Linked DNA regions of Homo sapiens. The protein of the gene in region 2 purifies or fractionates together with the protein of the main gene of each other region. This does not show direct contact. Each region holds a gene or a part of one and is shown on either strand. Other genes may lie near its edges.

Region 1 (7,030 bases), on a different chromosome or scaffold from region 2:
AGATACTGAGCAGCATGCTGGGAATGCAAAGATGAACAAGACCTGACCACCATGCTGACTTTCAAACCCTGTGATTTGGTAATGGGAGAAAGACAAGTACCAGTCAATACAGGTGTGGTCATTCTAGGATAGAAATCACTAGAGGTGGGGCTGGGTGTGGTGGCTCATGCTTGTAATCCCAGCACTTTGGGAGGCCGAGGTGGGCGGATCACGAGGTCAGGAGATTGAGACCATCCTGGCTAAGATGGTGAAACCCCGTGTCTACTAAAAATACAAAAAATTAGCCTGTAGTCCCAGCTACTTGGGAGGCTGAGGCAGGAGAATGGCATGAACCCGGGAGGCGGAGCTTGCAGTGAGCCGAGATCACGCCACTGCACTCCATCCTGGGCAAAAGAGCAAGACTCCGTCTGGAAAAAAAAAAAAAATCACTAGAGGGTACCATGAAAGCTCATAAGAGGGGACATTTCATCCACATTGGCGCTGAATCTGGGATGTGCCCCTGGAAGAAGGGTTTCCTGAGAGTTTTAAAGGACACGTAGAAATTAGCCAGGAGGACAGTGTGGGGGTTGACTTGTGTCTGAGGACCCTGCATTTCTTCAGAGTGGATGTAAGAAGGATTTGGGGAGTGATGTGGAACTGCAGGGGCTACAGGGCCAGGTGGGGCCCCTGCTAAGGGGCTCTTAGCTTTTATCCTGTGGATAGGTGGGGGCCTTTGGAGAATTAAGCAGGGAAGTAATATGATTAGGAAGATGATTCTAGTGGCAAAGTAGAGAATGGGTTGCAGAGGGGCAGGGCCAGAGGCAAGAGAACCAAGGAAGAAGCTTATGCAGTTGATCAAGTAAGATATTCGGATGTCATGAAGAAAGCAGACTTGAGAAAGAATGAAGTGGAATAGATGAGTTGTGACCTCCTGGACATTGGAGAGAGGTAGGAGTCAAAGAGGTTTGTGGCTAGGATGGCTGTGGGTGGGTGATGTTACTGTTCACTGGATGGAGACTGCAAAAGCAGGGGCTTTCTGGTCAGGGAAGATGATGAATTCAGCGTTGGACATGTTGATTCTGTTGTTGTTGTTGTTATGGAGCTTCACTCTTGTTGCCCAGGCTGGAGTGCAATAGTGGTGTGATCTTGGCTCACTGTAATCTCTGCCTCCTGGGTTCAAGCGATTCTCCTGCCTCAGCCTCCTGAGTAGCTGGGATTACAGGCATGCTCCACCACGCCTGGCTAATTTTGTATTTTTAGTAGAGACAGGGCTTCTTTCATGTTAGGCTGGTCTTGAATTCCCGACCTCAGGTGATCCACCCACTTTGGCTCCCAAAGTGCTGGGATTACAGGCGTAAGCCACCATGCCCAGTTGACATGTTGATTGTTGATTTCAAAGTACCTTCTGGATCTCCTGGCACCATCTCTCACTGGCTGAACTCCAACCAGGGAGCCCGCTGATGCAGTCCATTCAGATTCTCCCTGGATCTCAGGGAGCACAGCAGGGAGGGATGGAAAGTGGATTTGGAGGGACAAACAGATTATATCTAGCAGATTAATACATGTTATAAAAAAGATACACAAAATAAGGATTGAAATACCATTAGCAGGCCAGGCACAGTGGTTCACACCTGTAATCCCAGCACTTTGGGAGGCCAAGGCGGGCAGATCACGAGGTCAGGAGATCAAGACCATTCGGGCTAACACAGTGAAGCGCCATCTCTACTAAAAATACAAAAAATTAGCCAGGCATGGTGGCAGGCACCTGTAGTCTCAGCTACTCGGGAGGCTGAGGCAGGAGAATGGGGTGAACCCGGGAGGCGGAGCTTGCAGTGAGCCGAGATCGCCCACTGCTATTAGCAGCAAAAGGATTGTAAGGATTGTTGGTGGCTTTGCATTGCATAGTGTTATTAGAGTCAGATTCTCCTCCATACTTAGGTATTTTTTGAGGGCCTGTACTTTACCCTCAATGGACATGAGACATAGTTCTTGCTTTTGGAGAGTTTTGTGAGGGTTATAATACATCATGGTTAAATAGTTCCCTTTTTTTTTTTTTTTTTTTTTTTTTTGAGACAGAGTTTTGCCCTGTCACCCAGGCTAGAGTGCATTGGCGTGATCTCCACTCACTGCAACCTCCGTTTCCTGGGTTTAAGCTATTGTCCTGCCTCAGCCCCCCTAATAGCTAGGACTACAGGCACGTGCCACCATGTCCGGCTATTTTTTTGTATTTTTGGTAGAGACAGGGTTTTGCCATGTTGTTCAGGCTGGTGTCAAACTCCTGGCTTCAAGCAATCCACCTGCGTTGGGTGTCGGCCTCCCAAAGTGCTGGGATTACAGGCGTGAGCCACCATGCCCAGCCATGGTTAAATAGTTCTGATAGTGGTTATCTCTGTGTAGGGAATCTGAGTGACTGGAGGACCGGGAAGGGAAGTTTTTTTTTTTTTTTTTTTTGAGACAGAGTCTCGCTCTACCCAGGCTGGAGTGCAGTGGCGCAATCTCGGCTCACTGCAAGCTCCGCCCCCTGGGTTCATGCCATTCTCCTCCCTCAGTCTCCCAAGTTGCTGGGACTACAGGCGTCCGCCACCACGCCTGGCTAATTTTTCTATTTTTTTAGTAGAGACGGGGTTTCACCGTGTTAGCCAGGATGGTCTCGATCTCCTGACCTCGTGATCCACCTGCCTCGGCCTCCCAAAGTGCTGGGATTACAGGCGTGAGCCACCGTGCCCCGCCAAGATTTTTTTTTTGACTTAATTTTCCTTTGTTCGTTTGGATTTGTATCATGACTGTATTATCTATTCAAAAATATAAATTGAAGTTTTAAAAAGCAATCTTAGTGATCATATAATTAAGTACCAAAGTGAACGGTATGGACCAGAGGTAGTGGTGGACTGTTGACCTGTGGGCTGAATCTGGCCCTCAGAAGGGTTTTATTTCACCGACATGGGGCCTAGCATTTTCTTTCATGGAGTGATCAACAAGTCATAAAGGCAGATTTATTGGAGGCCATGGAGGCTCAGAGGTGACTGAGGCTTTGCTGTTTGGTGCCTGGGAGGAAAACTTGTGTGACGGGGCAATCAGGAAGCCTCATTTATGGCCAGTTAGATTTGGGTGACTGGTGAGGCATGAGAATGGAAGGGACCAGCAGGCAGCTTGGAAGTCAGAATCTGGTGCAGGTGAGCAGCCAGGGGGAGATGCACACTTGGCGGTTGTCAGCATGGAGATGCATTGGGCAGGGATAAGGTGGAAATCCAGCAAGATAGGAATTTGGGCCATGTGAATGCTGGAGACCCCCCTGCCACTTCCCCTGCTCAGGCCTATTCTATGTGAATAGACAAGTTCTGTGAACAAGAAAGAGGGAAACGCAGAAGGGCAAAGACAGCTTTGAGGAACATGGAGCAGGGATGAGAAAAATCAGAGGAGCCACTAAAGGAGAAAGGGAAGCACTAGGCGAAAAGCGGGGCGGAGAGCCAGCAGGTGAGCAGCTCTGTGACTGCCCCTCCTGGATGGCCTGTAATCTAGGGCCAGAAGAGTTTTATTTTCAGGTTCAAAGAGAAAGGACCCATTTCCCCATCTTAACCCTCTTTTTTATTTTTTTGAGATGGAGTTTTGCTCTTCTTGCCCAGGCTGGAGTGCAATGGCGCGATCTTGGCTCACTGCAACCTTTGCCTCCCAGGTTCAAGCGATTCTCCTGCCTCAGCCTCCTGAGTATCTGGGACACAGGGATGCGCCACCATGCCCGACTAATTTTGTATTTTTAGTAGAGACGGGGTTTCTCCATGTTGGTCAGGCTGGTCTTGAACTCCTGACCTCAGGTGATCTGCCCGCCTTGGCCTCCCAAAGTGCTGAGATTACAGGCGTGAGCCACCATGCCCAGCCTCCCATCTTAACCCTCTTAACCCTTCAGTGTTTACATGATATCCAGCTTTTGCCTCATCCTGCCTCCCACAGATGTCCAGACCAAGATAGAACCTGTCTCTCCATGTTCTTCCGTCAACTCTGAGGCCTCCCTGCTCTCAGCCGACTCCTCCAGCCAGGTGAGCACCACCTTCCTTCCTTCCTCCAGGTTTTCCAGTGAGTTCCTCCTGACCTAGAGGTATGAGAGCTTTCCCTTCTTCAGCTCCTTCTCCTCGACACTCTTCCTGACTAATGTATCTCTGGAATGCCCCACATAGGCTTTTATAGGAGAGGAGGTCCTGGAAGTGAAGACAGAGTCCCTGTCCCCTTCAGGATGCCTCCTGTGGGATGTCCCAGCCCCCTCACTTGGAGCTGTCCAGATCAGCATGGGCCCATCCCTTGATGGCTCCTCAGGTAATGGAGTCTCCTGACACTTGGAATCCCTAGTGAGAGGCCTTTGGTCCTGACATTTCTTGTTCTTTTCTCTCACCTTCCTTCAGGCAAAGCCCTGCCCACCCGGAAGCCGCCACTGCAGCCCAAACCTGTAGTGCTAACCACTGTCCCAATGCCATCCAGAGCTGTGCCTCCCAGCACCACAGTCCTTCTGCAGTCCCTCGTCCAGCCACCCCCAGGTACTGAAGAAGGAGAAAAGGGCCGGGCATGGTGGCTCACGCCGGTAATCCCAGCACTTTGGGAGGCTGAGGCGGGCGAATCACCTGAGGTCAGAAGTTTAAGACCAGCCTGGCCAACGTGGTGAAACCTTGTCTCTACTAAAAATACAAAAATTAGCGTGGAGTGGTGGCAGGCGCCTGTAATCCCAGCTCCTCGGGAGGCTGAGGCAGGAGAATCACTTGAACCCAGGAGGCGGAGGTTGCAGTGAGCCGAGATCATGCCACTGCACTCCAGCCTGGGCGACAAAGCGAGACTTTGTCTCAAAAAAAAAAAAAAGAAAAAAGAAAAACCAAAAAATAAAAATAAAAATTAATTAATTAATTAAAAAAAAAAGGCCAGGCACAGTGGCTCACGCCTGTAATCCCAGCACTTTGGCAGGCCAAGGCAGGCGGATCACAAGGTCAGGAGATCGAGACCATCCTGACTAACACAGTGAAACCCCGTCTCTACTAAAAATACAAAAAAATTAGCCAGGCGTGGTGGCGTGCGTCTGTAGTTCCAGCTGCTGGGGAGGCTGAGGCAGGAGAATGGCGTGAACCCGGGAGGCGGAGCTTGCAGTGAGCCGAGATCGCACCACTGCACTCCAGCCTGGTCGACAGAGCAAGACTGCATCTCAAAAAAGAAAAAAAGGAGAAAAGGAGGCGGGCTGCATTGACCCTGTCAGAGAGCTTGCAGCCATTGAGGCTGCCCAATCCTTGGGTGCTCTTGTGTGGGTGTGGACACAAGGACCCCACCCAGCGCACAGCCCTCTGACCTCTGCTCACTTGCCCCAGTGTCCCCAGTTGTCCTCATCCAGGGTGCTATTCGAGTCCAGCCTGAAGGGCCGGCTCCCTCTCTACCACGGCCTGAGAGGAAGAGCATCGTTCCCGCTCCTATGCCTGGAAACTCCTGCCCGCCTGAAGTGGATGTAAGTGTTGGGGAGGAGAGAAGTAGGGCGAGTGATGGGAAGGGAAGAGGGAAGTCTTGCCATAGAGAGAACTGTGGGATGAGGAGGGAGTCGATACCTAGGAGAAAAAAGTGAGGAAACGGACCCATTAGATCATTCTGAGGGTCAGAATGGACTCCTGTTTCTATATGAATATCAACTCCAGGTAGTTTTAGGGTCCTTTAGGTTTGCTGTCACTGCAGATGGAGAAATGGGGTTGGTCTCCATAAATTAAAGGCAAGGAAGTCGTACTGTACTATACGACTACGGTCATGGCCATAGTTGGGGAGGGAGGCTGCCTCCTAGGGGAAAATCAGGTAAACTGTATAAGCAGTATAACAAGGTTAAACTTTGAACCCTACAAATGTGGGCTGACAGGAAGAAAGAGTTACGAAGGAAAGAGTTTCCACCAGCATGGAGAAAGTTCTTCCCACACTCTAACCTTTCCCACCTCTGAGGAGCAGTAGCAGGGAATGTTTGAAAGAAGGGCCCCTTCCCTAGCGTGTTTGAGTAGAGAGGAAAAACCTCTCTGGCTATGTAGGTGGGTCAGGAAGGCAGGGGAATGGCCATGTGAGCTTTGGGTAAATCATTCCTTGGGGTTTGAGAGCATAGTCTCCTTCTGCCAACTCATCTGTCATTCTTTTTTGACCTTCCGGGTGCCTAGGCAAAGCTGCTGAAGCGGCAGCAGCGAATGATCAAGAACCGGGAGTCAGCCTGCCAGTCCCGGAGAAAGAAGAAAGAGTATCTGCAGGGACTGGAGGCTCGGCTGCAAGCAGTACTGGCTGACAACCAGCAGCTCCGCCGAGAGAATGCTGCCCTCCGGCGGCGGCTGGAGGCCCTGCTGGCTGAAGTAAGACCAGTCTGTCCCTGGGAGACCAACAGGAATACAGCCTCCTTGGAATGATTCCCCTTTTTCTTGTCTCCTTCTTTGTACCTTAGAACAGCGAGCTCAAGTTAGGGTCTGGAAACAGGAAGGTGGTCTGCATCATGGTCTTCCTTCTCTTCATTGCCTTCAACTTTGGACCTGTCAGGTGAGACCTTCCTTGCTTCACTAGAACCTTCCAGGTGGAGCCCACGTTACAGCCTCCTAGCTGCCTGCTTTGGCCCAGGCCATTTCCTTCTGCTTATATACAAATGGTTCTGGTGTCCTTGGCACCGATGATGTGTCTGGCCAGCCCCTTCCTGCTCCATTATTTGTCTTTTTTTCTTGGAGATGGAGCCTTGTTCTGTTGCCCAGGCTGGAGTGCAGTGGCACGATCTCGGCTCACTGCAACCTCTGCTTCCTGGGTTCAAGTGATTCTCCTGCCTCAACCTCCCAAGTAGCTGGGACTACAGGCGCACGCCACCATGCCCGGCTAATTTTTTGTATTTTTTAGTAGAGACAGGGTTTCACTGTTGTTGCCCAGGCTGGTCTCGAACTCCTGAGCTCAGGCAGTCTGCCCACCTCAGCCTCCCAAAGTGCTAGGATTACAGGCTTGAGCCACCTCGCCCGGCCTCCTGCTCCATTATTTTTCCAGTGGAGAGTAGATGATGGTGATAATGCTGGTAGAAATAGTGACT
Region 2 (5,085 bases):
GGTCTCGATCTCCTGACCTCGTGATCCGCCCGCCTCGGCCTCCCAAAGTGCTGGGATTACAGGCGTGAGCCACCGCGCCCGGCCAGATTATCATTTTAATCATATAAAAATAAGAGATGAATTGAGGTCCATCTTGGATGTTTTTTCTTCTATTAAAGAATTAGCCGGGCACAGTGGCTCACACCTGTAATCTCAGCACTTTGGGAGGCTGAAGCGAGTGGATCACTTGAGGTCAAGAGTTCGAGACCAGCCTGGCCAACATGGTGAAACCCCATCTCTACTCAAAATACAAAAATTAGTCAGGCGCGATGGCACAAGCCTGTAGTCCCAGCTGCTCGGGAGGCTGAGACAGGAGAATCGCTTGAACCCAGAAGGCGGAGGCTGCAGTGAGCCAGGACTGCGCCACTGCACTCCAGCCTGGGCAACAGAGCAAGACTCTTTCTCAAGAAAAAAAATTTTAAAAAAGCAGACTATTTCTAAGTATAATTTAACTAAAAACACTACTTCAACTTCAGATTTATTTTAATGATATATACAGGAGTTAACAACTTACAATTAAAACAAAATCAGTTATGTTAATTCCACATAACTTAAAATCATGCAATACTGCATGGTAAAAACAACAGCTTTGTTCATACACAAAAATTATTATTTTGAAACTCATGAGACCATCTAGAAATTTTTCAAATAAACTTTTTGCAAGAGTATTTTATAAAAATTTAAACACCTGATTAATCAGTTAATGCATTATTAGGAAAGATAATAAACATTATTAGTAAAGTGAGGTTACAAGCAATTAATTTTAAAATTACACCAGGTACAGGGTTGAACATAATCTCATGAAATAAATGTTTAAGAAAATAGTTTTGAAAAAGATCTCATACTGAAGCCATGTTAAATTTTGATAAACCAGGTTATATAAATCAAGTCGTTTATTCAGTTAATGAAAATATGCCTAACCTTTCTTATACTCATAAATAAGTACTTATATATAATCTTTATATACAAGTGAAGAAAAGTTCAATGTAAAAAATATACTGCCAATCCACTTATTATGGTTGAAATATTTATCTACACATTAGACTGCATTGATGAAAATGTCCAATTTAAATCACATTTGACCAGCATAAATATTTAAGCTGAGTACTGTCGTAAACAATAGAGAAAAAAATCCTTTTATTTTTATTTTTTATTTCATTACTGGGTAACAATCTACTTCTCAGCTTAGAATGCTATAGAAAGCCTCCACATTTAATTTAATCAAATCTGAAACCCAATAAGCTTAAACAAAGTGAATGTTTTTCAAAGTGCATAATTTCCAACTCATCCACTTGCAATATTTATCCAATTCCAGTTCATCAGCAAGAAAATAAAATGTACTTGGCTATAAAAATACTGAGGAATGTTATCGAAAAGGAAAGGCTATTTGGTAGAAGTAACTACAAAAATAATTAGTTTAAATCTTTGTAAAGCTTTAATGTAAGAACATCAGTACACTTTCTTTACATAAACCTTAAAGCATGATCAATACCAAGATTTCAAATTTTCAACTTTCAAGTACTTGAAAAAGGGTTGCAACAAAGTGTCTCTTCCCAAAAAAGCAAGAACAGTGATCATGCAGGTGTTAATCTGCAGACATCTGAGGACACTGGTATCTGTGTTGGGCTGTCATTTCTGGCTCCACTGGCAGAGAGTGTAGGCAAGGCATTACTTTGAAATGCAGATGTAGGACAAGGAGTCATGACAACATTTTCGTCTTCACCAACGTCTGAATCTGGTGTTGTAACTTCACTGCCTTGAAGCCCAAGGATCTCACAGACTGCTTGTGGCAATTCCTGGATATGAAAAATCAAACTCAAAACCATATTTCACTACAGAGGAAAAATAACCACAAAGTAACACTTCTGTTTAAGACTACATTGATTCCAGAATCTGAGCATTTGTCCTAACAGTGTAAATGTCATGTACCCTTCTCACAACATTTTTCTCAGCTCCAAATGAAATGCTAACCACCTTTCGCCCTAAGTGGTTCTTGGATATCTTCCAAATTAGTCACTCTCCATCCCACCTCCACATTCCCACAAACATAGCATGTCCTAATATTTGGCATTTATCTCTTTCTACTTTTTGTAATAATATCTTTCTTAGATCATCTGTCTCTCTCAGTAAACAAAGTTCTTCAAGGCAAGAAGTATCTCATTGACATGCTTTGGAAGAGAACAGGTATCAAATAAATGTTTGTAGAACTGAACCAAGTAACAGTTTGGATCAATGAACAAATGATACAAGGACCAAGCAAGAATTTTCATAAAAATGCAAAGTCATAAGGGGTGCAGCAAACCAATGTGGCACATGTATACCTATGTAACAAACCTGCATGTTGTGCACATGTACCCTAGAACTTGAAGTATCAAAAAAAAAAAATGCAGTCATGGCCGGGCGTGATGGGTCACGCCTGTAATCCCAGCACTTTGTGAGGCCGAGGTGGGTGGATCACCTGAAGTCAGGAATTCTAGACCAACCTGGCCAACATGGTGAAACCTCGTCTCTACTAAAAATACAAAAATTAGCCAGGCATGGTAGCAGGCACCTGTAATCCTAGCTACTCGGGAAGCTGAGGCAGGAGAATCGACTGAACTCAGGAGGAGAAGGTTGCAGTGAGCCGAGGTCACGCCACTGCATTCCAGCCTGGACAACAGAACAAGACTCTGTCTCAAAAAAAAAGCAAAGTCATGAGGTGGGCACAGTGGTGTGCATGCACTGGTAATCCCAGCTACTCAGGAAACTAAGGCAGGAGGATCACTTGAGCCCAGGAGTTCAAGGCCAGCTTGGGCAACTTAGCAAGGCCCTTTCTCTTAATAGAAAGAAAAAGCTAAAACACATCAAAAGTATACTGCTTTGGTTCAAATTCAGATAATACATCAAATTTGCCTTGTTTTAAAATAATTAATAACTTGACTAATATAAGTGAGTGACACAGGCTAAATAATATTGATTTAATTATTTCTGATTAGCATTCATTTTTGTTTAGAGATTCTGCATATTTAATATGACAGCCTATTCTGCATTCATGAGCTCAACTGGGTAATATATCATTGCTGAAATTCTACAGCCTCTTTGTTATAGAAATATTTTCATTACTTTTACCATTTTGCCTTATTATTAGCTGTTTCCTATCTGCCATAGTCAACTGTTTTCAATTAAGTGCTGTAAATCTAGAACAGCAAACAAAAAGCCAGCCAATACTTTGTGCCTGCCCTCAGCTTACTAAAGTTGCTATTTTATTTCCAAGAAGAAAAATCTTTCTTGATCTCAACCCACCAAAAACAAACAAATCTTGCAATTACTTGAAACACTGTATACCTTGCATTTTACCATCTGTAGAGAAATTGCTTCTGCCTTGCAGAGTATATCTTCCACATCAATTTTCATGGACAATTCATTGATATGCTAAAAAGTATCAACAAAATAAAATGATATCGAAACTGAATACACTATTATATTCTATTATATAAACAATTTATTACCAGTTATATTTCACTGCAGATAAAATCCTTAAAATAAAAACATTCATATACTACAAATACGTAAGAAATTCAATATATCTTTCTTTAGATTATTTCAAGTTTTAAAGCTAAAGACTAGCTAATAAGCTTATGGAACATTAAATCCAGCAGCTATTCCAAGTCTGATATCTCAAAGTTATAATCAAAAGACAATTAATTTTTGAAAAACTAAACTACATAAAAGAGCACTTGTTGAATTTCCTTTTCTTCCTAATTAGCCAGGTAAAAATAACTGGCCAATATGTATTTGAACTGTCATTCTCAGATAGTCATTCCTAGCACTGTTATTGACACAATTTAAGTTACTCAAGAGATTTAATAATGTTCCAAGGAAACGTTCTGTATATCAGGACCACCAAATAGAAAAGCCAGAACACTAAAATCTGAATTAAAGGAATAACTACCTTAAGTATTTCATTGAAGCCATAATGCTTTTCCATTATTTGCTGCTTTTCTGATTCCAGAATAGCACAACAGAGAAGAAGATGGAAATTTGTACATGGTAGTTCGGTCCACATTACCTATAGAAGGCAGAAGAACTATTTTGCAAATTGTATCAATTCTAAAACATTTTCCTCACAGATACAATTCTGAACACTGAATGACTTCTATGCAAAGTAGATGTTGCCTGTTTAGGGTAGCCCAAGGTTTTTCTAGCTAGGAAATGAGGGGAAGGAGAGTCTTACCTTCAGCTACAAAGTAACTATCATCGAGTTTATATGAATATGATATATTCTAAATGTGGCTCTTTAAGGTAACTATAGTAAGTAAATTACTGAGCCTAACCAGTATGATAAATGTTATTAATGCAGGAGCTACAGACACAAGGTTAAGGTGTAAGGGTTAGATGTATTTTCAATATTTTTCTGAAGTATCAGTTTCTCACTTCGATCTGAGAAAAGACTAAAGCTAAGTCCTGGAAATAAAAAAAGGTTCAGTTACACAGTACATGGAATCAGAAACACCCAGAGGTAGCTCTACATTCTAAATACGTAAAACCCTTGTATCACATTTTATCCCTGATTGTGACAATAACTGAATTAACTGCCCCAAATTTATAACCAAACATAGAAAACGCTTGATCAACAGCTCAGCTGTTCCTAAATACAGATAATATCCTCGAATTTAGGGTCTTAATTTCCCCCTGCTTCATGTACCTAATAATATATTTTCCACAAAGATAAAAACACCCACACAAACCATACCATGAGATCATACCCGAAATGTGTTTACTTCTTTCAAAAGGAGTAAATCAAGTTGAATAATTTTCAAACTAAACCCAATTGTTGAAAGTTTAATTACAATGCAATTAACCTCAAAGGTTTCATTAAAAGTTTGAATTTATTTAGTAAACACAGATTGAGGAGTTATTCTAGCTATGTGGTAATAATATTCTTAATTCATCCTTTAAAACCCATTTATGCCTGAGGATGCAATTTTTTGAATTTTTCAATCAGACCTTGGTGATGACCTTGAGCAGTAGGATATAAACAACTCCCACATGCTTAGCGTTCCAATA
Region 3 (7,635 bases), on a different chromosome or scaffold from region 2:
TCAAAAAATAAAAATAAAATAAAAAAACTAAATCACACACACAAATGAGTATCTGTAACTGGTAAAATCTGAATGAAGTCACTGGATTGTGTCAATATATATTTCCTGTTTATGGTATTATACTGTCCTTATGCACAATTTTAACACTGGGGGAAATGGTAAAGGATTTATGCAATCTCCGTGACCTCTTATAACAACATGTGAATTTATAATTATCTCATAAAATGTTTAAAAAAGCATACAGTGTGAACAAAGCCTTATCCAAAGAGTACATTTTGTATAATTTACAGAAGTCCTAGAAGAGGCAAAATTAACCTATGGTGGAAAAAAATCAGAGCAATGCTTGCTCTCTGTGCAATGCTTTTTGCTTTTTGTTTTGAGACATGGTCTCTCTCTGTCGCCCAGGCTGGAGTGCAGTGTCACAAACACAGCTTACTGCAGCCTCCACCTCCTGGGCTCAAGTGATCCTTCTGCCTCAGCCTCTGGAGTAGCTGTGACCACAGGTGCATGCCACCACACCCAGCTAATTAAAAAATGTGTTTTTTTGTAGAGATGGGGTCTCACCATGTTGTCCAGGCTGGTCTCAAACTCCTGGGCACCTCAGCCTCCCAAAGTGCTGGGATTACAGGCATGAGCCGCCACGGTCAGTCAGTGCTTTGTATCTTGCTTGGGATTTAGGTTGCACTGGGTATGCATACATTGGAACTCAAGGAATGGTATGCTCATGATGTGTCCATTTCATTGTGTTTAATGATATGCACGATGAAGTATGTATATCATATGAAGTATGTGAAGGAAACCAGAAGGTGCCACCCCAAGATATGCCTCTTTGAGATAAAAATTATTTTTTGGCCAAAGGCAATTAAGGAGCAGAAAACAGGCCAGGCGCGGTGGTTCACACCTGTAATCCCAGCACTTTGGGAGGCCAACGCTAGAGAATCACTTGAGACCAGGTGTTCAAGATCAGCCTGAACAATATAGTAAGACCCCATCTCCTGGAAAAAAAAAAAAAGAAAGGAAAGAAAAAATAAAAATTAGCCAGTCATGGTGGCATGTGTTTGTAGTCCCAGCTACTCAGGAGGATGAGGTGAGATGATCGCTTGAGCCCAGGGGTTCCAGGCTGCAGTGAGCTATGCTTGTGCCACTGCACTCCAGCCTGGGTGACAAGAGTGAGACCCTTTTGGTGAGAATGGAGACACCAGTAACTTACAGCTTAACAATCACCAATGAGAACTAAGAGCTCTAAATCAACCTGATTTTACTGTTCCAGGAATTCTTACTCACGAAGATAGGCTATAGGTCAATCCATACCTTCATTCTGAGCTTTAGGAACTTCCCATTTATCTGGTCTCTAAGTTGCTCATCAGGCTGCAAAGCTTCCTTCTCAGGCACTGAGAAGTTGAGCTGATCATTGAATTGGGCAAATCACCTTCCTTGTCAAAAAAGAGGGAAAATCTAACTTCAATTTCTTCACCTTGTTGGGTGTACCGTCTCAAACTATTCTACCATGAACTATGTCCAATCCCAGTGAAATCTCCATATTGAAAAGACCACCTTAAACCACTCTAACTAGACTATAGAACCCTATAAAAATCGCCCTCTGTAAGGCCGAGGCTGGCAGATTGCTCGAGCCCAGGAGTTCAAGACCAGCCTGAGCAACATGGTGAAACCCTGTCTATAGAAAAAATAAAAAAGTTAGCCAGGCATGGTGACATGTGCCTGCAGTCCCAGCTACTCTGGAGGCTGAGGCAGGAGGACTGCTTGACCCTGAGAGGTCAAGGCTACAGTGGGCTGTGATTGTGCCACTGAACTCCAGCCTGTGTGACAGAGTGAGACCCTGTCTCATAAACAAATAAAAATCACCCTTGACGTCCCCTCTGAGACACGACTAAGATTATGTCAAAGCAATGTTCTTTTTTTTTTTTTTTTTTTTGAAACTGAGTCTCACTCTATTGCCCAGGCTGGAGTACAGTGGTATGATCTCACTGCAACCTCTACCTCCTGAGTTCAAGTGATTCTGGTACCTCAGCCTCCCGAGGAGCTGTTACTACAGGTGTGAGCCACCATGCCAGGCTAATTTTTGTATTTTTCGTAGAGACAGGGTTTCACCATGTTGGCCAGGATGGTCACAAACTTGACCTCAGGTGATCCACCCACCTCGGCTTCCCAAAGTGCTGGGATTACAGGCGTGAGTCACCGCGCCCGGCCACAATGTTCTTTTCTAATGCTGTAAGAAACTCAAATTTACTTACTGACAGGTTATTCTGGTGGTCTTTGGTGGGGAGAGCTAGCAGTTGCAGTGAAGAGAGTTCACAAACAACAAAGTTTGGGAAATGCTGGCTTCCCATATGTTAAGACAAGGTAAATTTGGATTGGTTAGGAACTGCCTTTTGTAGTCCAGAGAGAGATTCAATGGCGCCATCAACAGATTAAATTAGGTAATATGGAAGACCAGGGAGGAAGAAAAAAATACAGGAGGTAGGTGGTTAAGAACTGTAGAACTTCCTTTCCTGTCTTCCTCCTTATGCATGATGAACACAAGATACAGACTGTAGAACTTTCTTTCCTGTCTTCCTCCTTATGCATGATGAACACAAGATACAGACAACTATGGGAACATCTGAACTAGTCAATATAATTAATTATTTTATGGTATGTCATGCTGTAATTTATATTACCTCACCCTTACTGATCTTCAGATTGTGCCCTAATATTTTGCACCTTTGCTTGGAGGATAAAGTTCTTAGCCTATATACAAAGGAAAGCCTCTGCGGCCCTAGCAACAATCTACCTCTAAAAGCCTTCATTCAGCTTTATTTTATTTTTAGAGACAGGGTCTCACTATATCGCCCAGGCTGGAGTGCACTGGCATGATCTCAGCTCACTGCAGACTTGACCTCCTGGGCTCAAGTGATTCTCCCACCTCAGCCTCTTGAGTAGCTGGGAGCACAGGCTACGCCATCACGCGCAGCTATTTTTTTTTTTTAGACAGGTTTAGCTATGTTGCCCAGAGGGGTCTCGAACTCCTGAGCTGAAGCAATCTGCCTCCTTCCGCCTCCCAAAGTGCTGAGAATACAGGAGTGAGCTACCGCGCCCGGCCTCAAGCTCTAAACTGCAGCAATAATCACTGGTAGTTCCTTTGCACTCAGGTTCCTAAACTTGAAATCCCACCCTTCCCGGACATCCTTGCCCAGATTCCTAACCTTTGAACACAACGTAGGCGTGACTTCCTTTTGGAAAGCCTTTTGCAAGCCTTCTGGGTATGGTTCTGCAACACCCTGTGTATATCTCTATCATAGCACTCAGGAACTGCATTATGTTTATTTGCTTACAGGGCTATCTTTCCCAGTTTTTTTTTTTCTTCTCCATAGAACCACAAAGTCGGATAAGCTGAGTTTCTTGAGGACAAATTCAGTAACTTGTAAATATTTGAATATCCAAGAGTTGTAGAGTACCAAACTGTGGAGCTCAATAAATTTCAGATGAACTAAACTGAATAGTCAGGTGGGATGCTAGATGGATGGGTCAGGAAAAAGAATTTTCTTTTTTCTTGCAAAGTGTTGGGATTACAGGCGTGAGCCACCGCGCTTAGCCAGGAAATATAATTTCTTTCTTTCTTTTTTTTTTTTTTTTGAGACGGGGTCTCATTCTGTCGCCCAGGCTGGAGTGCAGTGGTGCAAACTCGGCTCAAAGCAACCTCCGCATGCGGGTTCAAGCAATTCTCCTGCCTCAGCCTCCCGAATAGCTGGAATTACAGGCGACCGCCACCACACCCGGCTAATTTTTGTATTTTTAGTAGAGACGGGGTTTCACCATATTTGCCAGGCTGGTCTGGAACTCCTGACCTTGTGATCCGCCCGCCTCGGCCTCCCAAAGTGCTGAGATTACAGGCGTGAGCCACCGCGCCTGGCCAGGAAAGATAATTTCCAAGTACGAAATGTTGTAGATTGGGAGGACCTCAGTAGCTTGGGAGAAGTGCACAGTGGTGAGTTATAGGACGGCAATGAGGTCATGGAACTATGAAGTCAAGGTTAACAATAACGCGTGCAGGCAAAACTGAAAAGGGGCGGAACAAGGGGTAGCGGGTCTCCAGGACCTGGCATTAGGACGTGCGTGTTAGGGGGCAGGTATTTGGAGCCAGGCCCCACTTTCGAGTTGTCTTTCCGCAGGAACCAGAGACTGCGGACGGGGCCAGGAACCAGGAACCGTTAGGGAGATAAGGAAGGTGTTATAGCCCACATTCATCCTATACGGCCACAAGGCCGGGGGGCCCAGGCTGCCTCCTCACAGCATCAGCTTTTTCTTCGGCTTCATTTCCCTCTGGAAAGCGCTTTCTCACAGACGCTGCAAAGACCGAAGGGGCAGCCCCTGCCCTGCTACCCTCCAGGGAGCCACCGCTCTAGAGCCCAGGCTCCTCTGGACATCATGTGACTTGGGGGACGACTTGCCTTTCTTCTGAAACACGGCTACAGACTATAACTTTAAAACACGGGGCTTAGCTCCCCCTCAATAACGACACGGCCGTCAGTATTTACCACGTTATTGACCCTCTCCCAGCCGGCCCGCGGCAAGAAGAGTTCCACTTCCTTCCCGGAAAACGCGGCCGGAAGGGGCGGGCTTTCCGCCTGCACCAGGCGCTTCCGCCACCATGGCTTCACGTGGGGTTGTTGGCATTTTCTTCCTCTCTGCTGTCCCCCTTGTGTGTCTGGAGCTCCGGCGTGGGATCCCGGATATAGGTAAGTGTGACTTTTTCCCTTCGACAGTCACAGCTGGGTAATTTTCACAGGAATGTTGCATAGAACGACCGCCTCTTCGGCTGCGTGGCTTCGGAGCAGCTTTGACTACAACTCCCAGACTGCATCGCCCCTGCCCCCCCACTTCCGGAGCTGACTTCACTTCGAGGAACCTTTTCCCTCCAGGTGTGATGGTTTTACGTGTAAGAGGGTAGAGGCAAAGAGCACAGGGGCAATCATAGACAGTGCTTTCGCATCCTGGCGAACACTGAAAAGGAAATAAACAGGTTGATAAGATGAAGGTCTTGTGAGAATTTAGGCTGAGAAGTTTTTTGTTTTGTTTTTAGAGACAGGGTCTCACTATGTTGCCCAGGCTGGTCTCGAACTCCTGGGTTCAAGAGATCCTCCTGCCTCGGCCTCTCAAAGTGCTGGGATTACAGGCCTACGCCACTGCGCCCGGCCCTAGGTTTAAATAAGGGGCCACGCCCGTGAAAAGCCAGTGGGGGCAGGGAAGGGATGGGGGAGGGGAGGAATATTTTAGGCAAAAAGATTGTGACACGTTGGAGGAAAAGGTGAAGGCCATTGTGGCTGAATCAAGGAGAGTTGGGAGGAGGAGGAGGAGGAATTGGCTCAGGATAATGACGTTTATTGAACACCTATTATAAGCCAAACACCAGGTGCTGGTTATTATCTCATTTAATCTGCACTGCAATCAGAGGAGGGTAGGCACTATTATAATCCCCATTTTACAGTTGAGGGAACTAAAATTTAGGGAGGTTAAGTGACTTCCCTAAGTTTTAAAAAGGTCACTCGATTCTGTATGGAGAATGCTTTGGACAGAAGCTATGGTGGAAGCAGTGAGGCACATCAGGCTTTGGAAGTTGACAAGTGGTGATGATGGCCTGGACTAGAACAATAACAGGAGATGAAATGTAGACAGAATTGGGATATTGACGGAGTAGGATCAACCAACAGGCTTTGTTTATGGGTTGATGTTTGGGGCAAGGGAAAGGAAGGATTCAAGGACGACTGCCTCATGGGGGACTGAGCAAACCTAGGTATTTGGTAGTGCTACTGGTAAAGGGGAAATGGAAAGAAAAACTGTGGAGATGCTGAGAATCATGAGTTGATTTTTGGACATTTCAGTGATCAGTTTACATGTCTGTCTCCCTTTTTAAGGTCAATTCTAAAGTTAGAGACCATAATGAAACTTGGCTTTGTGTACTCCCTCTCTTTCTCCACATTTTCTCCCTGCTCACAAGGAGTCAGATGCCTAGAAATGTTGCGTGCAATAAGAAATGAAAATAAAATGCTTTAAAAAAATGTACAAAGACTGTCCTGAAGCTTCTCACTCACTCAAGCTGTGTTGGAATATAACAAGACCTTTATCCAAAGGATCAGAAATGTTGAATTCACACTCACCATTTCCGCAATTCACCTGTTCCCTTGTCTTTTCAACATCCACCCCTACTCTGCTCATTTATTATTTTTTGAGACAAGGTCTTGCTCAGTCACCCAGGCTGCAGTGCAGTGGCACGGTCATGGCTTACTGTAGCCTGGACTTCCCGGCTCAAGTGATCCTCCCACCTCAGCCTTCTGAGTAGCTAGGAATACAGGGGCCACACCACCATGCCTTGCTTATTTTTTGTATTTTTTTGCAGAGATGTGGTTTTGCCATGTTGCCCAGGCTGGTCTGGAACTCCTAGGCTCAAGCAATCCACCCACTTCGGCCACCCAGAGTGCTGGGATTATAGGTGTGAGCCACCGTGCCCAGCCAGAAATATGCTTCTTGAAGGCAGAGACCAAATGGAATTTGTTTTTGTATTCCCAGCACTTACCAGTGTCTAGTTTAATAGAACTAGGGACAAGGGTTCTATAAATTGCACCTGGGCTCCTGGCAGCATCTTTATCTAGTTCTTGAAATTTTCATGGGATTAGCTTCTTTCTCAGAATTCTGAACGAATGATTGTTTCCTTTGGATTGTTTCCTCTTTTCAGTTTTCTTTTTTTAATATATATTTTTTCCTTTTTTTTTCTGCTACCTTTGGATTCTTGATAGTGAGCTTCCAATAATTATTTCTTAACAGTATTTAAGTCTGTTTTATACATCATACTTTATACCAGCAGCAGGGCTGGTTATGCCTATACTGATATTCAGACATATATTGAAAAACTAGCCTTGTCTTTTTCTACTGTGTAAAAACCTTTATTGTCAATACATTTTACTTGTACTTAAGCTAGATTTTTTTTTTCTTTTTTTTTTTTTTGAGACGGAGTCTCACTCTGTCACCCAGGCTGGAGTGCAGTGGTGCAGTCTCAGCTCACTGCAACTTCCGCCTTCTGGGTTCCAGCGATTCTCCTGCCTTAGCCTCCTGAGTAGCTGGGACTACAGGCATGCACCACCATGCCCGACTAATTTTTTTGTATTTTTAGTAGAGGCGGGGTTTCGGTATGTTGTGCCAGGTTGGTCTCCAACTCCTGACCTTGTGATCCACCCGCCTCGGCCTCCCAAAGTGCTGGGATTACAGGCGTGAGCCACCGCGCCCTGACTAAGCTAAATATTTTAAGGCCAGTTCCTCACGTTGAAGTACACTGCTTATGGGGTCTATAGTTTAAGTACACAAAAAAATCCCAGCACTCTGGGAGGCCGAGGCAGGCGAGTCATGAGGTCAAGTAATCGAGACCATCCTGGCCAACATGGTGAAACGCTGTCTCTACTAAAAATACGAAAATTAGCGGAGCATGGTGGCGCACGCCTGTAGTCCCAGCTTCTTGGGAGGCTGAGGCAGGAGAATCGCTGGAACCCGGGAGGTGGAGGTTGCAGTGAGCCGAGATCACACCACTGCACTCCAGCCTGGCAACAGAGTGAGATTCCATCTCAAAACAAAAACAAAAACGAAAAA
Region 4 (6,914 bases), on a different chromosome or scaffold from region 2:
CTCAATTATTCCAGCTGTAATATGAATCTTGTTCACTACCCTCTAAGGAAAAGTGTGTGTATGTGTAATTTTTTCTCCACCATACCAGGTAAATTGCAGAGAAGGAGCTTTTATTGGAGAAGCTAAGAAGTGTTGAATAAGAGAGCTATGATCCAGGAATACAGTTATCATTGGAGAAATCATTCTCCTTTTCTTGGATGGAAGTGGCAAAGAGTGAACGTAAGTTTAATGGTAGTGGACTACTAAATGGCTATTTGACAAGATAATTGTGACAAAAAAAATCCCACAAGTAATTTCATAGGATAATGTCAGAGGGAAAACCTGTAAGAACAAGCCACTCCTTCCTTCTCTCCTCCTCTGCAATGCTCACTCAACCATGTAAACTGATTTGGAGTTAGAGGACCTGAGTCTGATTCCATCTTCTGTGACATTCTTGCTAAGTGAACTGTAGAAAAAACCTTTCACCTCTCTGAAAAATGGAGACGAGGATTAGCAACCTGGTCAGACCTGGTCAGAAACCACATCAAGTGCATGTTTCATTTCTTTTGCATGTTTGCCTTTACAGGCCAAATGTGTCTGTGCAGACCCTTATTGCTTCTGACCATTGTTGTACAGGAGAGGGGGTGTGACCAGGTAATTCTTTTTACCCATGTATAAGCCAGTTTTGTTTTCTGTTTGTTTTTTTTTGGTACAGATGGGATCTTATCGTGTTGCCCAGGCTGGTCTTGAACTTCTGGCCTCTTGCCTTAACCTCCCAAAGTGCTGGCATTACAGGCATGAGCCACTAGCACCTGGCTATAAGCCATTTTCTTTCTTGCTTCTTTTTTTTTCAAGACAGAGTCTCACTTTGTTGCCCAGGTTGTAGTGCAGTGGTATAATCTCGTTTCGCTGCAACCCCCACTTTCTGGGTTCAAGTGATTCTTATTCCTCAGCCTCCCGAGTAGCTGGGATTACAGGTGTGCACCACCACTCTCAGTTAATTTTTGTATTTTTAGTAGAGAAAAAGTTTTGCCATGTTGGCCAGGCTGGGCCATTTTCTTATTGAAGTGTTCAGGTGGGCAAGCTCCCTCCTCCCCCACTCCTAGAGGCAAAGAAAAAAAAAATCGCCAAAACGTGATGACAACAAGTATGTCTGTGTTCAAAATTAAATTTGTGTTTTTGGTAAGCCTCATGATAGAGCCACTTACTTTATTTTGTAATGGATTATCTAAGTCAGTTTTCCAGATAACCAGTCAAGTTTGTCTCAAGATCAGAGTTATTTTCCCAAAGCTATAGACAGGATGAAACCAAGCAATAGTAGTTAGCTCAATTGCACAAGCAAATTTCTGAAAGATGTTGGAACTTCTTCAGAGTTAATGGAAAACCTTGCAGGAATTATGGTGTATGGTAATAATCAAATGACACTTCACTCCTTTCCTACTTCTGTTTCTATCTATCTGACTTAATAGTTCCCTATATTTAGGCATCTATTTATATCATGTATCCTCATGAAACTTGGACAATTTTATACCATGTTGATCACATGAGTAAAAAATATCTGGGGAAATTCTCTCTTAACCTACATTCCAGGAAAAAAAAAATAGGAACACCATATTATCATTCAAGTCTTTTGAGAAGACATCACATTTTCTTCCAAAGGCAAGTACCCATTGACTTAGAAAGAGTGGTGTTTAAGATCAAGATCTTTGTGCCTTGGTTTCTTCGTCTACCTATAACTTATTTAAGGTATTATGAATGAGACAGTGTACACAGAGGGCCTGGCAATTAGTAAATGATTAATATTACTACTGCTGCTATTAGTTTTAAATTATCAATATATTTATTTATAAATTTGCTGCCTCTTCCAATAGAAAATAAGCCCTATGATACTAGAATCTTACCTGTTATGTATAGGTAGGCAACGCTGAATGTGTCTCAAATGGAGCATAAAAACAAAGTCTCTTGGTAAGGATGGGATTTAGGGTCAAAGGAAATTCCCCTAAGGAACTCTAAAACTGACATTATCTTAAGTTTTAGCACTTGGGGAAGTTTCAAAGACTTTCCAAAAGGATAAGTATATCATGATATGTAGGTATAAATACCAAGACAACTGCAGAGTTATTTTAATCCAAGTCTGTTGAGGCTTTATTATGTGATACAGCATTGTGAGAGTTAAGGTAACAGAAAATGATACACTTTGTTCTTCAAACTTATTTGGCAAATCAAGGGTACTGGAGGTTTATAACAATTAGTAGTGTCTAAGTCAAGTTACACCCCAACTATACCAGGAAAAAGAAGGACAGGAAAGCACACACTGTGAAATTTTACTGTGCACCAACATATTTTACACATCAGGTGGGCTGTTATGGAAATTAAGAACTCTGCACAAAATGTATTTTTTTTAAAAGTTTTATCAAGAAAGGAACATTTTCTTCTAAAAATGATTAGTACAGCTAAACAAAATAAAAATAATAATCCTATCGCACAAATTAAAAATAAAACCTGAGAAGTTTTGATCAGGCTTGCCTAAAACGAGTTGAAACCAAAGCCATTTTAAGAATCCAAAATATGAGATTAGTTTTGTTCAAAAAGAATTATCCATAAAAGTTAATAGATGTTTGCATAGTTACCATAAAATAAGAGGTAAGCCTTTATGTATTTTTACTTCATAAAGTTGAATTTCTATTAAAATCTATTACAAGAAAGGGAAAGTAACTTTCCAGTAATATTCAGATTTTTTAGTAATATTGAGCCTACATTTATGGGACATCATTTTTTAATGTTTGTCCACTGAATATTTTAAGTTATGTTTGTCATAGGAAATTAAATTTGCTTACCATTCTTAACGATAATCTCTTTCCTCATTTGGTTATACTTATCTCAATTAGTATAAGAGACTTGTTGATTTTTTTAAAAATTAAGGACATACTAAATTTCCCCGAGATAGTTATTTTGCAGTAATATAGATAAGCGACTCAGATTAACTTTAAAACAAACCACCATACATTCCATTCAATTTATTTTTGCCAGGCATTGTTTTAGCGGCTTTATACAGCCATGTACAAAATAGACAAGATTCCAGCATCATGATGCTTATTTTCTATTCTAGGACACAAAATAGAAAAAAAAATCTCAAATAGTGATAAGCGTTTTGAAGAAAAGTATATAGGACAGCCGGGTAGAGAATGACCAGGACTACCATAGCTAGGGTGGTCAAGGAAGGCCTCTCTTGAGTTTGAGTTAAGAGCTGAATGAGCATGGCAGAGAGAAACAGTTAACGTGGATACTGTTCAGGTTTCTTTCTCCCTGGGACCAAAATGTTTCGAAGTCTGCATACCTCCGTTTACCCTAACTTGTCATGAACATAAAACCTCTTATATTGCAGGCAAAAATCTGAGGTTCACAGATTAGTAGGGCAAGTAGCTGATTCCGAAGTGTGTACTTGCCTTTATGATACTGGATACACACTGGTGTTAACAAGGAGAACGATGTACGTGGCAGACGTTCGGAGAGTACTGGACATGTTGGTTCTAATTTGGGTTTATCCTGGCAGGCTCTAGGTAGAGAGGCTCAGAAAACCTGCGTCCATCCTTCCCATCTTTCCTCCCATTTCCGAAACCACGGCCCCGGTTTCGAGTCCAGAAAAAAAGGAATAAGTAGAACTCCCAAAGGACAGCTTTCCTGGCTGAACAAGATGTAAACAGTTTACGTGATTTCCAACCAAGCGCAAAAGTACAGGTGCAAAAGAAGACGGCAGACACCAAACTTCCCCTGCAGCCACGCCCTCCCCACTTTGGGAGTCTGGGTCCCCGGGAAGGAAGGCCTCCCTATTGGTGCTCAACGTGTTACGTCACTTCCGCTACCTCCACGGCAGGCGTCGCTAAATGACGTTGCCGTTTCCGGGTCACCCAGGCAGCTTGTGGCGGCGAAGCCATCGGTGTTCGCTGATGTCCAGTCTATGGAGTCAGTTGGTACCGGTGGCGGCGCGGAGGCAGAAGGCGGTGTCCGAGTAGGGGCCTCTGCCCCACCAGGATGTTACCCGGCTTGGCCGCCGCCGCGGCCCACAGATGTAGCTGGTCCTCCCTGTGCCGGCTCCGTCTGCGATGCAGGGCGGCGGCCTGTAATCCCAGCGACCGCCAGGGTGAGTGTCCCGCGCTGGCCGCTGGCTCCGTAGAAGCCGAACTGGAGGGCCAGGCTGGGCTCGGCGCCTCGCCTGGGGCAATTCGCCCACTTGCCTTTCGCCAACCTCAGAACCTTCCTTTCTGGCCTCCGCCTTTCCAGTTCAGCCTGCGCAGCCCGCGGGGGTCCTGACAGGTCTCTGACTCTGATGCCTTCTGCAGCCCTAGCATGGCCCCCGCGGGAACTTGTGGGCACCTCGCGGGCCGGATTGCACCTCTGAAGCCTACCGCTTTGTACCAAACAAAATGTTACGTGCGCATCGCGGTGTCCCGCGGTTACTCACCTCCGCGGTTGGAAATTGCGGACTCCGCAAAGTTCCAGGGTCTTTGGAGCTTTCCAGCGCACCTTCATTTAGCACTTGGTTGAGATTTTCTTGGCCTTCTTTTTCTTACTCTCCCAACTTATTTTCTTAAATTTTCTAAAAGGAAGGAGGGGTGCTACTCACTACGGATCTTTTGGAAGAAGTACGAAAGTATCCGACAATCATTGAATGAACCCAGTTTGGGTCCGAAAAACAAAGAAACTCTTCAGTTCGGCTGAGCAGTCTTTTTGGTGAAAAGGTGGCAGTTGTAGTGGTAACCCAGAAAAAAAGGTGGTTGAAGAGAATTTTCGTCTCTCTCAACATTCTTTTCTGACTCAAATTTAAATGGTTTGAGAGTTTCCAAAATAACATTGAACTAATCAGGCTTACCTTCGTTTTTGCCGTAGCTTGACACACATTGCTTGACACTGAGAACTGATAGGATCTCTGAGGGAGAAGACAGAACTAAGTCCACCCTTAACCTAATCCCTCCATTCTTGGGATGCAGAGAGTATTTACCGAAACATTCATGTTCGAAGCCAGGTGTGGTGGTGCGCTCCTGTAGTCCAGCTACTCGGGAGACTGAGGCAGGCAGATCTTTTGAGCCCAATAGTTCTAGGCTAGCCTTGGCAACATAGTGAGCTGTCTGTAAAAACATAGGTTTGAAAAAACCTGTAACATGTTCGTGACCTCCTGAAAGAAGTCGGAAGTTGCAGTCATTCGAGATTTTATGTAATATAAGCTATAGTAACTATGCTGTGGATATAAATTAGAATATATTCGTATCTTTTATTTGCAATAAATGTAAAGCTGAATCTTAGAATTTCAAACGGATAAATTTTAACAGCACTATTCCCAGGGCTTTTTTGGTAGTGATAGAAAAGTGTAACTGTTGAGTTTTTCCATATTGGCAATATACTGCCAGGTTCCCTTATGGACAGAATGAATCATCGGCTGGGTGCAGTGGCTCATGCTGCTAATCCTCAGGAAGATTGTAAACCTTAGGACGCTGAGGTGGGTGGATCGCTTCAGCCCAGGAGTTCCAAGACCAGCCCGGGCAACATGGCAAAACTGCCTCTCTACAAAAAATTAGCCTGGTTTGGTGACGCGCGCCTGTAATCCTAGCCTGTACTCAGGAGGCTGAGGTGGGAGGATCGCTTGAGCCCAGGAAATTGAGGCTGCAGTGAGCCTTGAGCATGCCAGTGCACTCCAGCCTGGGTGACAGAGTGAGACCTGTCTCAAAAAAAAAAAAAGAAAAGAAAAAGAAAAATGAATCATACGTTTATACTGTACTCCAGAATCCCCAAGTAAGTTTCTAACACAATTGTTTCTATTGACCAAGCAATTTTGGCATTTTACACTGAAATTACAGTGGCTGTTAAATTTAGTCTAAACTGCCCTTTAAGTGTTGGCAAAAAGGAGAAGAAACAGTGTAATTTGTAATCCCTCTTCTGTGTAGCTGTCATTATGTTGAAAATTATGTATTCTTTGTCTCATCTGTCTGTGAAACACAGATAATTATTACCTACCTTAGTGGTCAAAATGACTTTGCAAAGTTGTTTGGAATGTTTATTACTACAAAAAATTAAAATTTTTTTTACACTTAAAAATGCTTAGTAGGTTTTTAAAAATAACTTTGTGAAAATTTAGTTTCAGTAATGAAGCATTTCTTAAAAGGGCAACCATTATTATGGCAAAATTTAAAAATCATTTAGAAAAAGAGTACTATTTAAATTGGATGCATGTGAGAAGACTATTTGAAGAACTTTTGGAGAAAGAAAATCTAAAAACAGTTGTTTTTATTTGTCTAGAAGTAAGGTTTAGTTTATGCTTCTAAAATGCCTGTGGCTGGGAAAAGCTTATAAAGCATAAGGAGAGGAGGAAACCTTGAGGGATTGCTTGAATACTTAAAAATGAGGAATGCCTTTAAAGGCAAAATAGAAACTGTCTAAAAGAAATATGAGAGCCCTGTTTGTAATTTTGAGTTGTCTGATAGCCACATTAAAAAAAGTAAAATTAAAGATGAATTAATTTTAATATATCCTAGAATTAATTTTAATAACGAAATTTATATATTTTAATAATAAAATATATAAAATTTAATACTATTTTATTAAGTATATTCAAAATATTTCAACATGTAATCAATATCAAAATTATTGAAGTATTTTACATCATCTTTTTGTACTGTCTTTAAAACCCAGTGAGTATTTTACACTTTCAGCACATCACAGTTCAGACTAACCACGTTTTAAGTGCTCAGTAAACAGTGACTACTCAATTAGATAGTGTAGTTAGAGTTAGTATCTAAGTTATAAAGAATTTTTACAAACCAGTATACATTCCAGTAGGAAAATGGACAAAGGAATTGAATACAAAGTTCATAAAGTTGTTCAAGTGGCCAATAAAAATGCAAAAATGTTCCATACTGAAAAACAGAGACTTTAAAGGGTTT

The links.
Region 1: the proteins of TBC1D15 (region 2) and ATF6B purify together in Homo sapiens (co-immunoprecipitation; 3 studies listed by BioGRID and IntAct, with this or other methods). This does not show direct contact.
Region 3: the proteins of TBC1D15 (region 2) and UBXN8 purify together in Homo sapiens (affinity purification with mass spectrometry; 4 studies listed by BioGRID and IntAct, with this or other methods). This does not show direct contact.
Region 4: the proteins of TBC1D15 (region 2) and SLC30A9 purify together in Homo sapiens (co-immunoprecipitation; 3 studies listed by BioGRID and IntAct, with this or other methods). This does not show direct contact.

Annotation. Positions count from the first base shown.
Region 1 is NC_000006.12:32,118,246-32,125,275, reverse strand, and holds part of ATF6B (cyclic AMP-dependent transcription factor ATF-6 beta), read left to right. Parts: intron 1-3,927; coding exon 3,928-4,013; intron 4,014-4,151; coding exon 4,152-4,287; intron 4,288-4,373; coding exon 4,374-4,505; intron 4,506-5,318; coding exon 5,319-5,452; intron 5,453-6,134; coding exon 6,135-6,320; intron 6,321-6,409; coding exon 6,410-6,501; intron 6,502-7,030.
Region 2 is NC_000012.12:71,919,733-71,924,817, reverse strand, and holds the end of TBC1D15 (TBC1 domain family member 15), read right to left. Parts: intron 4,106-5,085; exon of another isoform or gene 4,088-4,105; coding exon 3,971-4,087; intron 3,451-3,970; coding exon 3,364-3,450; intron 1,836-3,363; coding exon 1,614-1,835; 3' UTR 505-1,613; downstream 1-504. UniProt on the Homo sapiens protein: Acts as a GTPase activating protein for RAB7A. Does not act on RAB4, RAB5 or RAB6.
Region 3 is NC_000008.11:30,739,542-30,747,176, forward strand, and holds the start of UBXN8 (UBX domain-containing protein 8), read left to right. Parts: upstream 1-4,622; 5' UTR 4,623-4,648; coding exon 4,649-4,736; intron 4,737-4,786; coding exon of another isoform or gene 4,787-4,919; intron 4,920-7,635. UniProt on the Homo sapiens protein: Involved in endoplasmic reticulum-associated degradation (ERAD) for misfolded lumenal proteins, possibly by tethering VCP to the endoplasmic reticulum membrane. May play a role in reproduction.
Region 4 is NC_000004.12:41,986,641-41,993,554, forward strand, and holds the start of SLC30A9 (proton-coupled zinc antiporter SLC30A9, mitochondrial), read left to right. Parts: upstream 1-3,889; 5' UTR 3,890-4,011; coding exon 4,012-4,120; intron 4,121-6,914. UniProt on the Homo sapiens protein: Mitochondrial proton-coupled zinc ion antiporter mediating the export of zinc from the mitochondria and involved in zinc homeostasis, zinc mobilization as well as mitochondrial morphology and health.